Linked DNA regions of Homo sapiens: region 2 is linked to region 1. A link means that fine-mapping ties the variant in region 1 to the expression of a gene that starts in the linked region. Tissue or cell type: nucleus accumbens. Region 1 holds a variant in brackets; the other region holds the start of a gene. All regions are shown on one strand. Distances are from middle to middle.

Region 1 (5,381 bases):
TAAGGTCCAGACTGAGGTGGTCTCAGATGGAGATGAGGAACTTGTTGGGAACTGGAGCAAAGGTGACTCTTGTTTTGTTTTAGCAAAGAGACGGGTGGCATTTTGCTCCTGCCCTAGAGATTTGTGGAATTTTGAACTTTAGAGAGAAGATTTAGGGTATCTGGCAGAAGAAATTTCTAAGCAGCCAAGCATTTAAGATGTGACTTCGATGCTGTTAAAGGCATTCAGTTTTATAAGGGAAGCAGAGCATAAAAGTTCAGAAAATTTGCAGCCTGACAATGTGATAGAAAAGAAAAACCCATTTTCTGAGGAGAAATTCAACCTGGCTGCAGAAATTTACATAAGTAACAAGGAGCCAAATGTTAATTCCCAAGAGAATGGGGAAAATGTCTCTAGGGTATGTCAGATGTCTTCACAGCAGACCCTCCCATCACAGGCCCAGAGACCTAAGAGAAAATGGTTTTGTGGGCCAGGCCCAGGGTCTCTGTACTACGTGCAGCCTAGGGACTTGGTGCCCTATGTCCCAGATGCTCCAGCCCTGGCTGTAAGGGGCCAATGTAGAGCTTGGGCAATGGCTTCAGAGGGTGCAAGCCCCAAGCCTTGGCAGCTTTCATATGGTGTTGAACCTGCGAGTGCACAGAAGTCAAGAACTGGGGTTTGGGAACCTCCACCTAGATTTCAGAAGATGTGTGAAAATGCATGAATGCCCAAGCAGAAGTTTGCTGCAGGAGCGGGGCACTCATGGAGAACCTCTGCTAGGACAGTGCAGAAGGGTAATGTGCTGTGGGAGGCCCCACACAGAGTCCCCACTGGGGCATGGCCTACTAGAGCTATGAGAAGAGTGATACCATCCTCCAGATCCCAGAATGGTAGATCCACTGACAGCTTGCACCATGTGCCTGGAAAAGCCACAGACACTCAATGCCAGCCCGTGAAAGCAGCTGGGAGGAAAGCTGTACCCTGCAAAGCCACAGGGGAGGAGCTGCCTAACACCATGGGAACCCACCTCTTGCATCAGCATGACCTGGATGTGAGACCTGGAGTCAAAGGAGATCATTTTGGGGCTTTAAAATTTGACTGCCCAGATGGATTTCAGACTTGCATGGGCCCTGTAACCCCTTTGTTTTGGCCACTTTCTCCCATTTGGAACTGCTGTATTTACCAAATACCTGTACCCCCATTGTATCAAGGAAGTAACTAGCTTGCTTTTGATTTTACAGGCTCATAGGCGGAAGGGAGTTGCCTTGTCTCAGATGAGACTTTGGACTGTAGACTTTTGGGTTTAATGCTGAAATGAGTTAAGACTTTGGGAGATTGTTGGGAAGGCATGATTGGTTTTGAAATGTGAGGACATGAGATTTGGAGGGGCCAGGGGTGGAATGACATAGTTTAACTGTGTCCCCACCCAAATCTCATCTTGAATTGTACTCCCATAATTCCCATGTGTTATGGGAGGGACTCGGTGGAAGATAATTTGAATCATGGGTGCAGTTTCCCCGATACTGTTTTTGTGGTAGTGAATAAGTCTCACAAGATCTGGTGGTTTTATCAGGGGTGTCCGCTTTTGCATCTTTCTCATTTTCTCTTGCCACCGCCATGTAAGAAGTGCCTTTCACCTCCCACCATGATTCTGAGGCCTCCCCAGCCATGAGGAACTGTAAGTCCAATTAAACCTCTTTTTCTTCTCAGTCTCAAGTATGTTTTTATCGGCAGCATGAAAACAGATTAATATGATGTCTAAATCTCTTGCTAGACTTTGGAACTTTTCAGCTATTATTCTGCTAAATAGGTTTTTGAACACTTTTGTCCTCTCCTCACCTTCTGAGATAACAAAAATTCATATATCATTTGCTTTATAGTGTCCCATATGTTATGAATGCTTCATTCATTCTTTTTTATTCTTTGTTTTTTCATTTTTGTCTGACTGGGTTATTTCAAAAGACCTGTCTTCAAGTTCTGAGATTCTTTCTTCTGCTTAATCTATTGTTGGAGCTTTCAAATATATTTTGTAGTTCATTAAATGAACTCTTCAGTTCTAGAATTTCCATTTGCTCTTTTTTATCATATTTTTCTCTTTGGTAAATTTCTCATTCATATCCTGAATTATTTTTTCTGATTTCTTTGTATTGTTTTTCAGCATTCTCCTGTATCTTGCTGAGCTCCTTTAAAATCAGTATTTTGAATTCTTTTTCTGGGATTTTGTGAAATTTTTTTGATTGGGATCTGTTGCTGGAGAATTATTTTATTCCTTTGGGGGTGTCATATTTCTTGCTCTTTCATGTTTTCTGTGTCCCTACATATCTATGCATCTATGTCTTCTTTGAATTTTTTGAATTTTCTTTTGAGTTTAGGGCTTTTTCCTAAAAATTTATCTATGATGTTTGTTGGGGCCATTTGGCTTTGATTCTGAATGTGTGCAGTAGTGTAGTCTCTATATGATTTCTTTGCCTACAAACAATGTTAGTGGTATCTGTGATTTCCTCAGTGGCTTAGGGTCATTAGTGGAGGCTATGGTGGAGATTTTCTGGGAAAAGGGATTGCAGGTAGGTCAGTCTTCAGGCCCAAGTGGTTGCAGCAGTAGGCTGAGTATACCTGTCCTTTAGCCCCCTGGGTGGTGTATGCTGGCACTGGTGTTAGTTGTCCAGTTGAGCCAATTATCAGGCCTCCAC[A/G]TGTCTTGCCCAGATGCTGGTAATGGCAGTGGTGAGCCAGGTGGGTGTACTGGTTTTCAGCCCCATGTGCAGACAGCATGGTGTGGGCCATGGCAGTAGCAGTGGTAAGATGACTGTCTTATTCCTGAGCAGTGCTCACTGGTGTTGGCAGTGGCTGTGATTGGCTGAGCAGACCCCTCCCCGAGCTCCTAGATGGCACATGTGAGTGTGTGTTTGTGCTGTTGGCAGCAAGGTGAGTGGGCCCATCTTCAGGTTCCTAGGGGGATAAAATAGATGGTATAGGTGGTGGAATAGATAGAATAATCACCAAGTCCTTGGGTGGTGTGCTCAGGCTTGGAGGTGTGGTGCCAATTTGGGAGTGTCTGTCCTCAGGCGCCTGATGGTGTGCAGGGGGATAGGCTGTAGTAGGCAGGTTGAGACAGTCTGTGATGGTTGGTGTGGATACCTGACCTTAGGGCTTGTACTAGAAAGCATAGTGGCCCTGCTGTTTGTATGGGTAGGTTGCTATCAGCAGTCTCCTACAAGCAGCTCTCAGGCTCTGGGAAGTGAATATTTAATCTCTGGCAGCAGCAGTGACTGCAGTGGTGAGTGTGAGGAGCCTGATTTGAGGATGTGCACTAGAGTACAGAACCCGTGCTGCTGGTATGGGCTGGATTGGCACAGGGAGTCTCCAGTTCTAGGTTGCACTTGTTTCAGCTCCCTGCTGCAGTAGTGGCTTCAGCACTGTGCAGAAGATGGAGATGAGGATCCCACCCTCTATTGGTAGCCAGAGCACATGACCATACTGCAGGGGGACAGGGTCACCACCCACAACCCAAACATGTAGCTCTCAGACTTATTTGCTCTTGGAGGCAGCAGCTGCAACAGCACCATGCAGAAGTGAGAAAGAACCCCACCCTCTGTGAGTGAGCTTTAACACAGGCCACACTGCTAATGGGGACATGGTTGCAACTCACAGCCCCAGACAAGCAGCCCTCTCTTGCCCATCCAGCCCCTAGTGGCAGCAAGAGCAGCTGCAGCTGCAGTGAAATGCAGAGAAGGAAAGAGATCCCATTCTCTATACATAAATCCTAGCACAGAGTCCACTCTGCCAGCAGGGTTGTGGTCACTCCTTCCAGCTCCAGTCAGACAGCTCTCAGACCCGCTTGCCTTGGCTCCCAGTGGCAACAACTGCTATGGCACTGTGCACATGTAGAGGGAAAGATCCCACTCTCTCACTGTGAACCCAAGTACAATATGTGACACAGTTAGAGGTGGAGTCACTTATCAAAGCCCCAGAAAGAAAGCTCATCAGCTCTGGAAAGCATGTAATTTGGCTTCCTTTGTGCCCAGTGGCCACCTCCTTGGTGTGCTGCACCATTTTTTTTCCCCAGGGAGTAGTACTCTGTTGGACTAAAGTACTGGGGACCCCAAGCATCTTTGGGCTCAGCCAATGCTGTGCCTCCGTAGCCCTCTGGGTGGACACCAGGGGATATAAACAGAGGTTCCCAGGATGTGGAGATGGGACAGCTGTTGTTCCCAGAGCAGGATGCAGAATGGTGATGGCTAGGCTCTCACAGTGGTGCCATGCTGTAGCCACTTAGATCTCAGGAGTGTGTGTGACCCAGTGCATTTTCTATCTGGTACAATGCCCTCATTGGGTCTCCAGATGAACACCCACACTAGTCTTAGGGTTAATGTGGGTACAGGAGCTCTCCAATGGTTGGGATTGCAGCAGTCCACAGTGAGGATGTAAGCCAATGAGGGTATCCCACTTACCCTTTCTCTGCAAAAAGGAGCCCCTATGGGCTCACAGCCAATCTTGGCCAAGCTAACCCCTTGCTTTCTTCCCCTTCTGTGTCTCAGATATTTCTCTTTTGGACTCCGGTGTTCTCTACTAGATGTTTTATCTGAAATGTGATTATCTATTTGGTTAAGTTTTGTTTCTTCTGTCTGGAGAAGGCAAGTGCCCGATGCCTCTAGTCAGCATCTTGAAGCTGTCTCTACATTCAAGATATTTCTAATTTATTGATGCGGATATTTATTGCTGTAAACTTCCTTCTTAGAACTGCTTTTGCTGTATCCCATAGGTTTTGGTGTGTTGTATTTCCATTTTCATTTGTTTCAATAAATTTTTAAATTTTTTCTTTGCCTCATTTGTTATTCAAGAGCGTGTTGCTTAATTTCCATGTATTTGTATAGTTTCCAAAGTTCTTTCTGTTATTGATTTCTAGTTTTATTCCACTGTAGTCAGAAAAGATACTTTCTATGTTTTTAATCCTTTTTAATTTGTTTAGACTTGCTTTGTGGCCTAACTTATGATCTATCCTGGAGACGGTTACATTTGCGAATGAGAAGAACATACATTGTTAGTTACTGGGTGGAATGTTCTGTAAACGTCTGTTAGGTTTATTTGCTCTAGAATGCAGTTTAACTTTGATACTTCTTCATGGATTTTGTCTAGAAGTTCTGTTTATTTCTAAAAGTGGAGTTTTGAGGTCCCTTACTATTATTGTATTGCTGTCTATCTCTCCCTTTAGATCAAATAATATTTGTTTTATATATTTGGGTGCTGGATGCACATATATTTGCTATTGTTATATCTTCTTCCTTAATATACTTCTTAATCATTATGTAATGGCCTTCTTTGTCTCTTTTTACATTTTTTTATTTGAAGTCTATTTTATCTGAAATAAGTATAGTTACTTCTGTTTAGCTTTGGTTTCCATTTGT
Region 2 (5,381 bases), 52 kb after region 1:
AAGGAATAAAACATGTGAGGGGAGAGTTGCTATAACCCAACAGGAGACAAAAAGTCAGACACAGTTATTCGCCTTTAAAAGAACAGTGACTTTTTGCTGAAGGAGCCAAGGAAATAAATACTCCAGCCTCACTCTCTTTTCTCCCTCTGGTCTCCAACCAAGCCTCAAGCCAGAGGACATCAGAGCCCACTTGATTTAGCTCTTGTAGATCAACCTCAAGGGAAGGTGGAAGGGTGCAGGATAGAGAAGATATCTAAAGGAGCAAAAGGAAGCTCACCACCACATAAAAATTGTTCCTAATTATTGAGTGTTTTCTGTGTAACAGACACAAATACCTTATATGTGTCGACTCATTTAAACCAAATAATCTTATAAGGCAAATATTATTATTTTCCCATTTTAGAGATGAGGAACATGAGGCTGGCTGTGTGTAGTTAAGTAACTTCCTGAAAGTCTCAGAACTAAGGATGAAAGCAGGAATTGAATCAAGGTAATGTGTACTATAGCCTGTTATTGTCAAAGATCAGTAAGTGGTAGTAATTGGTTTCATAATTATCGTCACTACATAAAAGCTATTTAATCCCAACCAATTATATTTCCAGGGTTTTATCTCAATTATAATACTGCGAATGCATAATAAAGTATGTTCAATATGCTATTTGTAACACTGTATTGGCAAAATATACACAAAATTTAAATGCCTAGTGTTGGGGCTCAGAAACCAATACCACAAAATGTGACACTTTGACATGCTGAAATGAAGAAGGCTTAAGTTTTCTTTGACCTTCCTTCACCAATCCTCTCTTTCCCAAAGCACAGAATGAAGGTATTCTCTGAAGTTCCCTTATCTGCCTAAAGTCTCGACTTGCCAAAGAAGAAAACAGTTACCTCTGGTCTCTTCCCTGACTTTCCACAAACTGAACTCATATTGCAGAAAGAAAGACTGAAGTCTGTCAACACACACGGAGAGCTCTGCAGGCTTAACATACTTTGTCTCAGGCCACTGTATGTTCTTCAAACACATTGAATTCCCCTAAAAATCATTTTCTAACCCCCCAAATCACCCATACATCACCCATCTGCCTTTCCTCTAATAAGGAGGTACAACCCTCTGTACCTCATTGGGATATTGGCCAATCACTCTGTGATTCTCCCCCATGCCCGCTGATAAATTTGTATGCCATTTGTCCTGTTAATCTGCCTTTTGTGACTTGATTTTTCAGTGAAACTTCAGAGGGTAGAGGGGAAGTTTTCCCTTGGCCCCTACACTATGAACTGAGATAGACAAAATAAATTAGTATGTTTATAAAGTGGAATACCATATGGTCAGTAAAAACCGGTAGCTCTATGAGTACTGTGTGTTGATACACAGACACACACACACACACACACACACACACACACACACACACACACACGGGGGGGGATTCGAAAAGGTTATATGTTACATTTTCTGTTAAAAATTTAAAATAACTACATTACCTATATTCTTGTTGACAAAATTTGAGTGCCTGGAAAAATACATAAGAAACTGGTAACGTAATTGCCTTTGGGGAAAGCAACTGGGTGGCAGGGTGAAATGGAGATAATTTTTTATTGCACACATTTTGTACTTTTAATTTTTTTACCATGGTCATGTAATAACCTATTAAAAACATAATTTAATTAAGGAAAAAAATCTAATTTTGCATTATTATTGACCTTCCAGGGATTCATGTAATTTGAGAAATTGAATGAAAACAATTTTACATGCATGAAATTCAGCTTTCTTACTCTATACATCCTGAGTGATTTGCCTTTTTCAGTAACAGAATCCTTTGCTATACCAGCTTGTTAAATGAATGCCAAATCAAGAGTAAAATTTCCATCTGTATTCCATAGTGTTTTAGCCATGCTGCAAAAGCAAAACCTGTAGGTAAAACAAAGAAAATTATCACCTTGAAGCTAGGTAACAGGTAACCCAGAAGTCCGGCCAAGCATAAAATTACAGCCACAAACAGCCCTGCAGAGAACATCTCAGGACGGCGGCTGCTGGGTTTTTGTTGTTGTTTTCATCTTTCTTGGCCAAAGGAAGCAGGTGTTAAGAGAGCTCAACCACAGCTCCTGAACTCTGAGATTTACAGAGCTCTGTCACCTGGGGTAATACTGCCATTCTTCCAGGTTTTCTTCCTGTCCAAGAAATCTGACATGCTGTTTTTCATGGTATTTTCAAACTGGAAGATCGAGACAGAAACTTTGGTCGTCAGGAATGCAGAGATTGCCCAATGAAATGACAGAATTGATCATTAGGATGCTTGTTACTCAAAAAGCCCATTTTTTAAAGAAGGATGTATTAAAATTATTCCAGCATGCTAATGTGGCACACTCCTCTGCTGCCTAACGGCAGGTGTTGCTATTAGCAGAGGAAGCCTTGTTCTAAGAATTATTCTAGAGGGCCAGAAAGAACAGGTATTGCTCCACCCGAGTAAACGCTGACTCAACTCTGCAGGGCTGGCGCGCTCTTTCCTCACCTCACCCCTCCTGCCAGGCACAACTGAGATCCAGAAATAAGAGGATTAGCGAGAGAAGGGGAAATATGCAGGACGGTAGTGATGGGTATGCACAAAGGAGTGCCAAGCAGTTTTAACCGTTAATGTTCTTCGTCTATTGCTAGAGAAAATGTCTTTCCTTGGAGGAGGCATTGGCACGAGTTACTATAAACTCCCTCTGAATCTCAAGACTTCTGGGACGCCGATTCCGCTCCTGGCCTGGGGCAAGGCGTGGGAGCTTGGAAGCCAGCGCTGCGCTCCCCGTGGGAAGCGATCGTCTCCTCTGTCAACTCGCGCCTGGGCACTTAGCCCCTCCCGTTTCAGGGCGCCGCCTCCCCGGATGGCAAACACTATAAAGTGGCGGCGAATAAGGTTCCTCCTGCTGCTCTCGGTTTAGTCCAAGATCAGCGATATCACGCGTCCCCCGGAGCATCGCGTGCAGGAGCCATGGCGCGGGAGCTATACCACGAAGAGTTCGCCCGGGCGGGCAAGCAGGCGGGGCTGCAGGTCTGGAGGATTGAGAAGCTGGAGCTGGTGCCCGTGCCCCAGAGCGCTCACGGCGACTTCTACGTCGGGGATGCCTACCTGGTGCTGCACACGGCCAAGACGAGCCGAGGCTTCACCTACCACCTGCACTTCTGGCTCGGTAAGGGACGGCGGGCGGCGGGACCCCGACGCACCAAGGCCGGCGAGGGGAGGGCGTAGGGGTCTGAGATTTGCAGGCGTGGGAGTAAAGGGGACCGCAAACTGAGCTAGCCACTCGCGCCCCCACGGGGCTGCCCTTTGGGGCCGGCCACTTTCTCCCTACCGAAGTCAACTCGCCGGCTGCAAACGCGGGGCTCAGGCGTTGTCCGCAATTGACTTACCTCGCAGGCTTTGACCTTTGCCAGGTGTAGTTCCTGGACTTTGGAGCTGGTGACTGGCTTCTTCCCCTTTCACCGTCAAGTATCCAAACGCCACTCTTGTCCAGGGCCGCTGCCTCAGCGCACACCGTCTCTGGCCAAGCCCCGCTCACCTTCCGACAAACTCAGTCCTGCTTTCCCTGTCGGGATGGAGAGGAAGTCATAAAGTCTGGGGGCATCTGCCGCCGCTAGGAAGAAGTCCTTTTCTTTTTCTTCACACATTATTTTTATTTGTTGCTTTCGGGCACTGGCTTATTTTCTCTATGATTGCGGGAATTATTGTTCTGGGCTTCTTTAAAACAGGATTCTACCCGCACCATGCTGCTTGTGGGTCTGGTAGACAAAAACTCCGCTTCATTCGGAAGCTGGCGTCCTCAGATAGAAGTAAGAAAAAAATACAGATATTTTATATACAAATAAATAGCTCTATATGGGTATTTCATATATTTATGTAGACTGCTTTATTGTTATTATTTATTATTTATTTTAGCAAGGACACAAGATGGAACAGAAACGGCTCCTTCAGCAGTAGTAATTATTTTGAGCTGCGTTCGTGCCAGGCTGTCAGGACACTGGGCCTTGTGTGTTCTTTTTCCACCTTCTACTTTTACTCATAAACATCCTGAATGTCCAGCCTCTCCCCAGGAGGTCTTGTGCCAGTGGGCACACCCTGTCTAACAACATGCCGATTCTCTGAGCCTTTTTGCCTTCTTTTAAAACTAGCTAGCCTGCCCAGTACTCGTGTTTGTTTAGTTTTATCCCTGAGCTTAGGAGGAAAACACACAAAACCACACACACTTACACATTTTTGAGTCCCTGAAAGCCAACACTGTAATTTCCAACATTTGAAGATTTTAAGAAACAAAATAATAGAAAACATTGAGTAGTGACTGTCTAAACATTGGCAAACACCTGGAACAGGCATTTGAGAAATGAGAAATGAAAAATACGTAGATGAAGATAAGACTTTTAATTATAACATTTGGAGTCAAAAATTTGTGTTAGCTTGAGGAGGCAGAGAAGGCTCAGCCTGAGTTCTGAACACATTTTGGCTTCTTGATGCATTGCTGTTATTCCTATTATAATGTTGTAATACACAGTCATCTATTTGTATTTTCTGCCAGAAAAGACTGAAACTTTTATAACCCATGTTCAAGAATGAATGATGCCAGATAGAATAATGATGTCCTTACAGAGGACTTTCCATGCAGAACTTAAATCTAGCATGAATGAAAGTGTTTGAAATGCCACATTTGCCATTTGAGTAAATTAAAATGTGAAATAATGCCATATCTTACTGTAGACAGCAGTTAAGTTTGACTTTGTCAGATGACCGCAAGGGAGATTTGAACACAATTCTTTAATTCTATACATTTTTATCCAAGTTGTCCTCTTAACTACTATATTTTGTAGGGTTTACAGATTCACCTTATTCACTTAATTATCTACTTAATTATCCACTTGATGCCCATAAATTTCAAAAATATAATAGAAAATGGTTTGGGCAGAAACATTTATAATCTTAAAGACATGCTAAAACTGAAGTCAATAACATGTTAATAACAAGCAAATTCATTCAGTAATTATTCAATATGGCCAGTACTGTACAAGGCACTTGTGGATATGAATAATTAATGAAACTTCTCTAAAAGTTCATCACCTCAAAGGTGCAAAAAGACAAAAAGTGATATAACACAGGTAGAATGTGATAATTACTGTGAAAGCACAAAGTTTCTGTGGTTATTGGGAAACAGAAGCCTTTAGAGAAAAAAAAAATGAGAGTACTTGGAAGTGTTCTTGTGTCAAGAGAGAATTATGGAGAGAAAAAAAGCTTCAAGTAAAATAGTCAACAGGACTTTCAGATGGGATTGCCCAACAGCTCTTCCTACTTCAGTTCCCTAAGAAAACAGAATTTCATCCAAAATAGTGTAGTCTAAGACCTAAATTAGGA

Which allele goes with the higher level. Alleles are on the strand shown, and positions count from the first base shown. SD is a standard deviation of normalised expression in the study named.
In carriers of allele G in region 1, the expression in nucleus accumbens of the gene that starts at base 2,909 in region 2 tends to be higher than with A alone (small effect, 0.27 SD a copy in GTEx).

What was found. PIP is the estimated chance that this variant, and not a neighbour inherited with it, causes the effect. A credible set is the group of variants that fine-mapping cannot tell apart.
Region 2: SCIN starts here. The variant in region 1 is the best candidate, but not a certain one, in a credible set for the expression of SCIN in nucleus accumbens (GTEx, PIP 0.74).

What each region holds. Positions count from the first base shown.
Region 1 is chr7:12,515,681-12,521,061 of GRCh38, forward strand. All of the region lies in intron 1 of C7orf78 (chromosome 7 open reading frame 78), which reads left to right. Among named protein-coding and RNA genes, the nearest start is that of C7orf78, 14 kb to the left of the region's middle. RefSeq lists an enhancer at 3,521-3,620. The variant A/G (reference allele first, on the strand shown) is at 2,670.
Region 2 is chr7:12,567,812-12,573,192 of GRCh38, forward strand. It overlaps SCIN (scinderin), which reads left to right and starts at 2,909. Exons shown (of 16, transcript NM_001112706.3): 1 at 2,909-3,174. The coding sequence starts at 2,976. It overlaps LOC107986768, which reads right to left. Exons shown (of 3, transcript XR_007060635.1): 3 at 1-3,570.